Linked DNA regions of Homo sapiens: regions 1, 2 and 4 are each linked to region 3. The links come from fine-mapping of genetic effects on gene expression. A gene starts in region 3. Each other region holds a variant in brackets. All regions are shown on one strand. Distances are between the middles of the regions. Region 1 overlaps GPATCH1 (G-patch domain containing 1). Region 2 overlaps GPATCH1 (G-patch domain containing 1). Region 3 holds the start of GPATCH1 (G-patch domain containing 1). Region 4 overlaps FAAP24 (FA core complex associated protein 24).

Region 1 (2,684 bases), 36 kb after region 3:
ATGTACACACAATGAAAATGCCATCAAACCAGTGGTGATCATTTTTGCTTTTAGTCATTAAACATATTTTAAAAGAACCGATGCAGAGACAATAGCCTACTCTGTTTAATCAGATATTTTCTATTTCTGTTGCTCTTTCTTCATCCTTGAAGTTCCACGTTCCCCTCACCTATCATTTCTGTCTGAGGAACTTCCTTTAGCATTTCTTTTAGACCAGTTCCAACAAGTGATTCTCTTAAATTGCCATTATCTGAGAATGTCTTATATTTTGTCTTCATTCCTGAAGGATGTTTTTGCTGGATATAGAATTCTGGGTTGATAATTTTTGTTTTGTTTTGTTTGTTTGTTTTTTGAGACGGAGTCTCGCTCTGTCACCCAGGCTGGAGGGCAGTGGCGCGATCTCAGCTCACTGCAAGCTCCACCTCCCAGGTTCACGCCATTCTCCTGCCTCAGCCTCCCGAGTAGCTGGGACTACAGGCGCCCGCCACCACGCCTGGCTAATTTTTTGTATTTTTAGTAGAGACGGGGTTTTACTGTGTTAGCCAGGATGGTCTCGATCTCCTGACCTCGTGATCCACCCGCCTCGGCCTCCCAAAGTGCTGGGATTACAGGCGTGAGCCACTGCGCATGGCCAATTTTTTTTTAAATTAAACTGCTACTTCCTCCGGGGTTTCGTGATTTCTGATGAGAAATCTTCAACCATTCAAATTGTCCTCAGGCTGGGTGTGTTGGCTCACATCTATAATCCCAGCACTTTGGGAGGCTGAGGCAGGGGGCTTGTTTGAGGCTAGGAGTTTGAGACTACCCTGGGCAACATCGTGAGACCCCATCTTTTACAAAAAATTAAAAAACTAGTTGGGTGTGGTGGCATGCACCTGTGGTCCCAGCTACTCAAGGGGCTACGGTTGGAGGATCACTTGAGCCCAGGAGGTCAACACTGCAGTGTGCTATGATCGCACCATTGCTTTCCAGCCTGGGTGACAGAGTGAGACCCTGGCTCAAAAAACCCCAAAACAAATTATTATTCCTCTGTACATAATGATGTGATTTTTCTCCTAGCTGCTTTCAAGATTTTTACTTGGTCTTTGGATTTTAGCGGTTTGATTATGATGTATCTGGGTGTGAATTCTTTTGAGTTTATTTTGTTTGGGGTTTGTTAAGTTGCCTGAATCTGAGTTTGGAAATAGAACAGAGGCACAGTGCTCTACTGCATTTTTGGGGATCCTAGTAGCTGGGATTACAGACGCCCACCACCATGCCCAGCTAATTTTTGTACTTTTAGTAGAGACAGGGTTTCACCATTTTGGCCAGGATGGTCTCGATCTCCTGACCTTGTGATCCACCCGCCTAGGCCTCCCAAAGTGCTGGAATTACAGGGGTGAGCCACCACGCCTGGCCCGGTTTTGCTTCTTTGACCTCATCAGCACATTGTACAGTTGTTGACTCGGAAACACCACAAAAATA[G/A]AAGCTATGTGAGTGATCACTGTTTAGTTGGGTGGTGTGTGGCTATGGATACCCATGTACATGAGCATAAACATAAATATGTGTGTCTGGGAGTGTATTCTAGAATGTCTCCTCCCTTTTACCCTTGCCTCTGTATCCCTGACTCTTATTTCACTGTCAATACAGACCGTCAACAAAGATGTGGACGCACAGGCTGAAGGAGAAGGGAGCCGCCCATCCATGGACTTATTCAGGGCCATCTTTGCCAGTTCCTCAGATGAAAAGTCCTCATCCTCCGAGGATGAGCAAGGTGACAGTGAAGATGATCAGGCAGGCTCTGGGGAGGCCAACTTCCAAAGCTCCCAAGACACTGACTTGGGGGAAACATCATCTGTGGCTCACGGTATGTCAGTATTTCAGACTCGGGGATCTAAAGGAGAAGACAATGACTCTAGGACAGCTGCTTCTCTGTTTACTCTATAATCTTAAACCCGAATGATTAGCAATCAATGATATGTAATCTTTTATATGTATATAATTTTTTTTTTTTTTTTTTTGGAAACAGGATCTGGCTCTGTCCCCAGGGTGGAGTACAGTGGCGCAATCTTCGGCTCACTGCAGCTTCCACCTCCTGGGCTCAAGCAATCCTCCCACTTCAGCCTCCTGAGTAGCTGGGACTACAGGAATGTGCCACCACCCCTGGCTAATTTTTGTATTTTTAGTAGAGATGGGGTTTCACCATGTTGGCCAGGCTAGTCTCTAACTCCTGACCTCAGGTGATCTGCCCACCTCAGCCTCCCAAAGTGCTGGGATTACAGGCATAATCCCAGTGCCCGGCTAGTTTTCCAGACTTTTAAAATTTTTATATCTCTTCTATCTGAATATATAGTAATCTGCTTAAAAAACAAGATTATTAACGTGAATATGATCATTTATCTTCAAGGTTTTTTCTTTGATAATTTATTTTGAGTGAAACTTGTCTCCCGCAGTTCTCTGTGATGGGACATACATAGTCTTACATTCCTGATGGTTTGTAAGATTTTCCTTCTCAGATGGCCCTTTCTTGGGGACACATTTCTACTTTTCAGGTCTTAGGGGCGCTAGGCTACGTGCCCACGGGTGCACTTGGCACGCTGTACCTCAGCCATTGCTGCCCTTGGTTGCAGGTGCCCTCGTGTGACTGACTTCCAGCTCTGGAGTTCACAAGGGCAGCACCGGGGTCTGCGTGTTCACTGCTGCAT
Region 2 (2,684 bases), 48 kb after region 3:
GGCAGGAGAATGGCGTCAACCTGGGAGGCGGAGCTTGCAGTGAGCCGAGATTGTGCCACTGCCCTCCAGCCTGGGCGACAGAGCGAGACTCTTGTCTCAATAAAAAAAAAAAAAAAAAGAAAAGAAAATTCAGACCTTACAGCCAATGCTTAAAGGAGCCCTGACTAGTTCTCCAAACCTCTACTTTCTCCACAGTAACTTCTGCCATCAGTTTCATATGTAACCTTTAAGACCTTTTTTGTGCAACCACACACACACACATACACACTCACGTACATGGATGCACATACACATTGTTTGTTTCTTTTTTAGACGAGTCTCGTTCTGTCACCCAGGCTGGAGTGCAGTGGTGCGATCTTGGCTCAGTGCAACCTCTGCCTCCCGGGTTCAAGCAGTTCTCCTACCTCAGCCTCCCAAGCAACTGGGATTACAGGCACCCGCCCCCACACCCAGCTAATTTTTGTATTTTGTATTTTTTTAGTAGAGACAGTGTTTCGTCATGTTGGCCAGGCTGGTCTCAAACTCCTGACCTCAGGTGATACACCCACCTTGGCCTCTGAGTGCCAGGATTACAGGTGTGAACCACCATGCCTGGCCTATATACAGATTTTTGTGCACATTTTAAATATAAGTAATATAATTTTATATAGCATATATTTATAGGGTATGAATTTTATTTTATTTTTTGAGACAGAGTCTCGCTCTGTGACCCAGGCTGGAGTGCAGTGGCCTGATCACAGCTCACTGTAAACTCTGCCTCTCCGGCTCAAGGGATCCTCCCACCTCAGCCTTCAGAGTAGCTGGGACTGTAAGTGTGCACCACCACACCCAGCTAATTTTTTTAAAAAATCATTTTTTTTGAGACAGAGTCTTGCTCTGTCACCCAAGCTGGAGTGCAGTGGCGCGATCTTGGCTCACTGCAAGCTCCACCTCCTGGGTTCACGCCATTCTCCTGCCTCAGCCTCCTGAGTAGCTGGGACTACAGGTACCCGCCACCACGTCCAGCTAATTTTTTGTATATTTAGTAGAGACGGGGTTTCACCGTGTTAGCCAGGATGGTCTCAATCTCCTGACCTGGTGATCCGCCTGCCTTGGCCTCCCAAAGTGCCGGGATTACAGGCGTGAGCCACCACACCCGGCCTAAAAAAATCTTTTTTGTAGAGATGGGATCTCCTATGTTGCCCAAACTGGTCTCGAACTCCTGGCCTCAAGTGATCCTCCTGCCTCAGCCTCAGGCGTGAGCCGCTGCGCAGGCCTGCTCTTGCCAGTTTTATCTTTATTGGGAAGAAGGGTGTTGTGTGAATTCTTTGAGTGTCTGGCTTCTGAGATTCCTTCAGATGATGGTAGGCAGCAGTGAGGGGCTTGTAGTCATTGCTGTGGAAGATTCCTTCTTGTGAGCACACCACGGTATGTTTATCTCTTCTGTTGTGTGGATACTGGGTTTTTTACTTTGAGTCTGTGGAGCAGGGATTTTCAGCCAGTGTGACCCAGCTCTGTTTCAAATAGAACTGCCACGAACATTCCTATATGTATGAAATTCAGATTTAGGCCAGGTGCGGTATCTCACGTCTGTAATC[C/G]CAGCACTCTGGGAGGCCGAGGCAGGCGGATCATGAGGTCAGGAAATCGAGACTATCCTGGTTAACACAATGAAACCCCAAACCCCATCTCTACTAAAAAAACTAGCCAGGCGTGGTGGCACGTGCCTGTAGTCCCAGCTACTCAGGAGGTGGAGGCAGGAGAATCGCTTGAACCTGGGAGGTGGAGGTTGCAGTGAACCGAGATCGCGCCACTGTACTCCAGCCTGGGTGACAGAGACTCTGTCTCAAAAAAAAAAAAAGAAAAGAAATTCAGATTTAAGACTGACAACTTGGGGGCTGGGCATGGTGGCTCATGCCTGTAATCCCAATACCTTGGGAGGTCAAGATGGGAGGATCGCTTGAGCCCAGGAGTTCAAGACCAGCTCGGGTAATATAGGGAGACCCTGTCTCTATAAAAAAATTAAAAAAAAAAAAAAGACAACTTGGATGCTTTGGGCCCTGGAGTGAATGTATTTTAGTTCCTTCCCAAGGGTCATGCAACGGATGCGGTAGGTGAGTGAAACTGAGATTAAAAATTGCTTGTATTCTCAAGGCTAAATAAGACTAGGGAAAAAAGTTGCTTTTATAAGTGGTCTTAATACGAGGTGTGGGTGAGTGAGTCTCTGTGTGTTTTCAGGGTAATAGAAGAAGCATTTTAAGAACACAGATTGGCCGGGTACGGTGGCTCATGCCTGTAATCCCAGCACTTTGGGAGGCCGAGGCGGGCAGATCACAGTCAGGAGTTCGAAACAAGCCTGGCCAACATGGTGAAACCCCATCTGTACTAAAAATACAAAAATTAGCTGGGTATGGTGGCATGTGCCTGTAATCCCAGCTACTCTGGAGGCTGAGGCAGGAGACTTGCTTAAACCTGGGAGGCGGAGGTTGCAGTGAGCTGAGATCGCACCACTGCGCTCCAGCCTGGGCGACAAAAGTGAGACTCCATCTCGGGGGAAAAAAAAAAAAAAGCACAGATTAGGCAGTACTTCATTGTGGGTTATTGTGAGTGCATTTTGTAGGTGCAGACATGCTGCTGTGATATGGGGAGGCCTGGCATTCTCAGCCTCCACGGAGCTGTTTGGTTTTTCACTTTAGCTAACTTTCCAT
Region 3 (2,684 bases):
GGACATAAAGAAGGGAATGACAGGTGCCAGGCGCAGTGGCTCACGCCTGTAATACCAGCATTTTGGGAGGCCGAGGCGGGTGGATCACTTGAGGTCAGGAGTTCAAGACCAGCCTGGCCAACATGGTGAAACCCAGTCTCTACTAAAAATACAAAAAAAAAAAAAAAAAAAAAAAAAAATGGCCGGGTGCGGTGGCTCACATCTGTAATCCCAGCACTTTGGGAGGCCAAGGTGGATGGATCGCCTGAGGTGGGGAGTTCGAGACCAGCCTGACCAACATGGACAAACCCCGTCTCTACTAAAAAAAAAATTACAAAATTAGCCAGACATAGTGGTGCATGCCTGTAATCCCACCTACTAGGGAGGCTGAGGCAGGAGAATCGCTTGAACCCGGGAGGCGGAGGTTGAGGTGAGCCGAGATCGTGCCATTGCACTCCAGCCTGGGCAACAAGAGTGAAACTCTGTCTCAAGAAAAAAAAAAAAAAAACCACCACAACAACCAACCAACCAAACAAACAAAAATTTAGCAGGGCGTGGTGGGGTGGACGCTTATAATCCCAGCTATCAGGAGGCTGAGGCAGGAGAATCACTTGAATCTGGGAGGCGGAGGTTGCAGTGAGCTGAGATCGCGGCCACTGCACTCCAGCCTGGGCGACAGAGCGAGACTCTGTCTCAAAAAAAAAAAAAAAAAAAAAGGGAATAACACCAGGGCCTACTTGAGGGTGGACCTACTTGAGGGTGGAAGGTACGAGGAGGGTGAGGATCGGAAAAACTACCTATTGGGTACTATGCTTATTACCTGGGGAGGAAATAATCTGTAACCCAAATCCCTTGCGACATGCAATTTACCTATATAACAAACTTGCACATGTACCCCTGAACCCAAAATAAAAGTAAAAAATAATAATAATAAAAATAAAGCGAAGCCCCACGGGGCGAGCATGAAATCTGGGAGCTCAGCCATTTCCCTGGAGGTGGCTGGGTGGGCGGTGGGAGTGGACGGGGCTGGGCAGTGACTGCTGCCAAGGCAGGGGGCTGGCGCGAGGGACGGGGGTAGGGGGCTGGGCAGGCATCGGTGTCGCCTCGCAGGGAACAGTTGGGTGGCTTCCAGCTTATGCCAGGAGTCTCCTCCTCACCCGCACATCGCGGGGCTAGGATGGGATGTCGTGGCTGCCAAATCCTCCGAGGCAACTCCTGCCTGGGACGGCCTACCACAGGATGGGCCTGAGAATCCGGAGCGCAGGCTCGGGCCGCTAGGACACCTTCCCCCGCCCGCGGACCCAGCCTTCCAGCATCACCGGGGTTCGCGGAGGAGAAAGAGGAAAGGCGTTTGGCCTGCCAAGGCCGCCGTAGCGAGGGGGCGGGGCCCGGAAGAGCAGGATGGCGGCGCGGGACAGTGACAGCGAAGAAGATCTGGTCAGCTATGGGACCGGGCTGGAGCCTCTGGAAGAAGGTGCGGGCCGCGTGGGCCGGCGGAGCCTGTGGAAAACAGGCCAAGGGCCCAGGATTCGGGCCACAAAAGCACAAGTCGGTGCTGGACCATTGTTAGATCGTTCCCAGCGCTGGGAACACGGCGACGAGGGAGGCGTTAGCCGCGCTCTCGGGGTGCTCACCTTCTGCAGCGACAGAGAGAGGTTTACAGGGACGGGAGACACAAGCGTGGCCGAACAAGGGGGCGGCGAGATAGAAACAAGAAAATGACGGAATAGCTAGTGTGAGAGCGGGGGGTGCTCAGGCAGTGTCTTCCCCGAGAGAGGACGTTTGAGCTCAGACTTGAAACCGAGGAAGAAAACAACCATGAGCAAATCTGGAGGGAAAGCATTTCAGGCAGAAGGAACATAAAGTGGCAAAGGCCCTGAAGTGGGAGCCAGTTTAGGAAATTGAGGGGCAGGCAGGACGGGTATGGTTGCAGCAGATGACAGCGGGGGAGACAGGTAGAAAAGAATGTCAGAGGGGCTGACAGGGGCTGGATCTTACTTGGTAGGGTAAAGAGTTTGGATCTTGTACTAAGTGCAGGATTAGGGTTAGGGTTAGGGTCATGGGAAATTACACAGGGAGGGATATATATATGATTTTTAGAGACAGGGTTTTGCTCTGTTTCCCAGGCTGGTCTTGAACTCCTGACTTCAAGTGATCCTCTCGCTTCTGCCTCCCAAAGTGCAGGGATTACAGGCTTGAGCCACTGTGCTCGGCCAATTTTTAATGTTATTCTATCTTTGATGTTGAGAATACACTGGTTGGGGATGGGTAAGAGTGAAGCAGGGAGATTAGCAAAAAGAGGTCAGGAGATGATGGTGGCATGGATGGGACAGCAGTGGTGGTGGTGTGTAGTGGTCTGGGTGGAGATATATTTTGAAAGCAGAGCTGACCATACTTGCTGGTGGAATGTGGGGGTGAGGGGCAAGATGAATCAAGGTTCTCTCCTGTGTTTCTGGTCTGTTCCACTTAACGACTTGACTTGTTCAGCAAGTTATGTATTGAGTGTCCAGTAAGGGCTGTTGGCTGTGCTAGCCCTGTAGGGAAGGCAGAGGAAGAATGGTGGAATCATTGGGCCACAATTTATTTGCAGACCTCCTGTTGGTGGGGGTCCCCTCCCTTTTTTCACCCTGACCACATCCTGCCAGGTTGATTGTACTTCTGGGATATCTCCACTTATGCCCCCTTTATTTCCTACAAACAGTTCT
Region 4 (2,672 bases), 100 kb before region 3:
CTGTTGCTTTCATTGTGGTTCAGGTTCAAGAGCAAACCAAAGAGCCCAGTAAGAACCCTCTTCTCGGGAAGAAACGGGCCCTGCTGCTGTCTGAGCCTTCGCTCCTTCGAACCGTGCAGCAGATCCCAGGAGTTGGAAAAGTTAAAGCTCCCCTTCTCCTCCAGAAGTTTCCAAGCATCCAGCAACTGAGTAATGCTTCCATTGGGGAACTGGAGCAGGTGGTCGGACAAGCAGTGGCACAGCAGATCCATGCCTTCTTCACGCAGCCCAGGTGAGGGCTGGCCTCAGGGCCACGGCATCTTCTCCTGAGACCACAAACACCAGGATCTTGTTTTCAGCTTTAAAAACCAAGAGAATGGGCCGGGTGCACTGGCTCACGCCTCTAATCTCAGCACTTTGGGAGGCCGAAGACAGCGGATCATCTGAGGTCAGGAGTTCAAGACCAGCCTGGCCAACATGGAGAAACCCCTAAAAATAGGAACAATTAGCCAGGCATGGTGACAGGTGCCTGTAATCCCAGCTACTTGGGAGGCCGAGGCATGAGAATCACTTGAACCCGGGAGGCGGAGGTTGCAGTGAGCTGAGATCGTGCCACTGCACTCCAGCCTGGGCACCAGAGCGAGACTCCGTCTCAAAGAAAACAACAAAAAAAAAAAAAAAAGAAAAAGGATTTTCTCCAGCAGCAACCAGTGAAAGATGAGGCGAGGCTTGAATGGAGCCCGTGGGTCGTCCTGCCTTAGCGTCTGAGTTCAGCTTGTGAAGTTAGTGGGCCGCAGAGGGCACTGCCTTCATTCTGCTAAGACGAAAAGGGCTGGTGGGATCTTCGCAAGAGAGTCAGGGACTCACACTCAGCAAAAAGCATTAGGGCCGATTTTAATGTGCGACCTTGACCTGCATCTGTCATGGAAAGTGCCTTCTAAAAAGCTTCAGTGGTGGATGTGACCATCTGAAGGAAACAAATGTACAAGGAAGCACTGTGTATCCTAAGCCCTGGGTTCCCAGAGTTTCACCTGCTGTTCATCAGGTCTGGCCTTCATATACCCGTACTGCGAGGGCTGTTTCCAATGTAAATAAATAACTGCGCAACAGTTCCTTC[C/A]TCCTTTCCTTTGTTCCTCCCTCCCCCCGGCCTTTTTTTTTGGCAGATGTACAGTTTGTTTATAATCACTGCATATGTCTTCTGCACACAGAAAGTATGAAGTCTGAAGTTCCCACTTAAAGTTGAAAACTCAACGGCCGGGCATAGTGGCTCACACCTGTAATCCCAGCACTTTGGGAGGCCAAGGGGGGTGAATCACAAGGTCAGGAGATCCAGACCATCCTGGCCGACATGGTGAAGCCCTGTCTCTACTAAAAATACAAAAATTAGCTGGGTGTGGTGGCACACACCTGTAATCCCAACTACTCAGGAGACTGAGGCACGAGAATCGCTTGAACCCAGGAGGTGGAGGTTGCAATGGGCCGAGATTGCACCACTGCACTCCAGCCTGGATGACAGAGTGAGACTCCATCTCAAAAAAAAAAAAAAAAAATTTAAAGTTGAAAACTCAACATGCATGAGGCAGAACAGGCTGTGTTTGTATATGAAAGGCCCAACAATGGAAGGATACAAGAAAATGATGGCAGCAGCTGCATCTAGTGAGGGAAGCAGGGGCTGGGGATCAAAAGGTACAAATTGCCCATTCAAAAAATAGACACAGGCCAGGCACAGTGGCTCACACCTGTAGTCCCAGCACTTTGGGAGGCTGAGGTGGGAGGATTGCTTGAGTCCAGGATTTCGAGATCAGCCTGGGCAACATGGCAAGACCCCATCTCTACAAAAAAATCAAAAAAATTAGCCAGGCATGGTGGCTCATGCCTGTAGTCCCAGCTACTCAGGAGGGTGAGGTGGGAGGATTGCTTGAGCCCGGAAGGTTGAGGCTGCCATGAGCCACAATTGCGCCACTGTCCTCCTGCCTGGGTGACAAAGCGAGACCCTGTCTTGAAAAAAAGACAAAAACAAAAAATAAGCACAAAGATACCATCTGTCTTAGAAAATACTAAGATAACTTGACAGCTTTTTAAGTTCTGCTTTGTGAAATGTTAGTAACTAAAAAAATCAGAACATTAGAAACTGTGTGCATTGGGGAGAAACAATTTGAAAGAGGAGGGAATGAAAATGAAATAAAAGTAAAAAGAAATATTAACTCGGGTAAATGAATATGTTTATTTAAATATGTATACAAGCATGGCCCTAGGAGCAGCAGATACACTTTCCCAAAGGTGGTTGCTTCCTTTAAGATATTGCACAATAGAAAATAAACTCTTGTCAATCCTTAAAATTAGTCTTCAATGCTATGTATTTTAGCTATGTAACTTGTACTGTGTCAACAGTGAACCTTATTAGATTCACGGTGTCATCGAACTTATAGCAAGATAAAAATCAATCAGTAGGAATGTCATTTTAAAAAGTAAAATAGTGGGACGGTTGTGGTGGCTCATGCCTGTAATCCCAGCACTTTGGGAGGCTGAGGTGGGTGGATCATTTGAGGTCAGGATTTCGAAACCCGCCTGGCCAACATGGTGAAACCTCACCTCAACTAAAAATACAAAAATCAGCCAGGCATGCTGGAGGGCACCTTGTAGTCCCAGCTATTTGGGAGGCTGAGGTAGGAGAATCGCTTGATCCCAGGGGG

The links.
Region 1: its variant is fine-mapped to the expression of GPATCH1 in whole blood (TOPMed, PIP above 0.99).
Region 2: its variant is fine-mapped to the expression of GPATCH1 in whole blood (TOPMed, PIP above 0.99).
Region 4: its variant is fine-mapped to the expression of GPATCH1 in whole blood (TOPMed, PIP above 0.99). The same link has a PIP of 0.9 or more in neutrophils.

What each region holds. Positions count from the first base shown.
Region 1 is chr19:33,116,196-33,118,879 of GRCh38, forward strand. It overlaps GPATCH1 (G-patch domain containing 1), which reads left to right. Exons shown (of 20, transcript NM_018025.3): 16 at 1,630-1,846. Among named protein-coding and RNA genes, the nearest start is that of WDR88, 15 kb to the right of the region's middle. RefSeq lists an enhancer at 2,255-2,424. The variant G/A (reference allele first, on the strand shown) is at 1,465.
Region 2 is chr19:33,127,419-33,130,102 of GRCh38, forward strand. All of the region lies in intron 19 of GPATCH1 (G-patch domain containing 1), which reads left to right. Among named protein-coding and RNA genes, the nearest start is that of WDR88, 3.4 kb to the right of the region's middle. RefSeq lists an enhancer at 1-64 and a silencer at 1,631-1,775. The variant C/G (reference allele first, on the strand shown) is at 1,578.
Region 3 is chr19:33,079,814-33,082,497 of GRCh38, forward strand. It overlaps GPATCH1 (G-patch domain containing 1), which reads left to right and starts at 1,368. Exons shown (of 20, transcript NM_018025.3): 1 at 1,368-1,453. The coding sequence starts at 1,381. RefSeq lists an enhancer at 1,263-1,592.
Region 4 is chr19:32,976,408-32,979,079 of GRCh38, forward strand. FAAP24 (FA core complex associated protein 24) reads left to right here. Exons shown (of 5, transcript NM_152266.5): 5 at 24-1,822. The coding sequence ends at 275. RHPN2 (rhophilin Rho GTPase binding protein 2) reads right to left here. Exons shown (of 15, transcript NM_033103.5): 15 at 2,185-2,672. Among named protein-coding and RNA genes, the nearest start is that of FAAP24, 5.5 kb to the left of the region's middle. The variant C/A (reference allele first, on the strand shown) is at 1,097.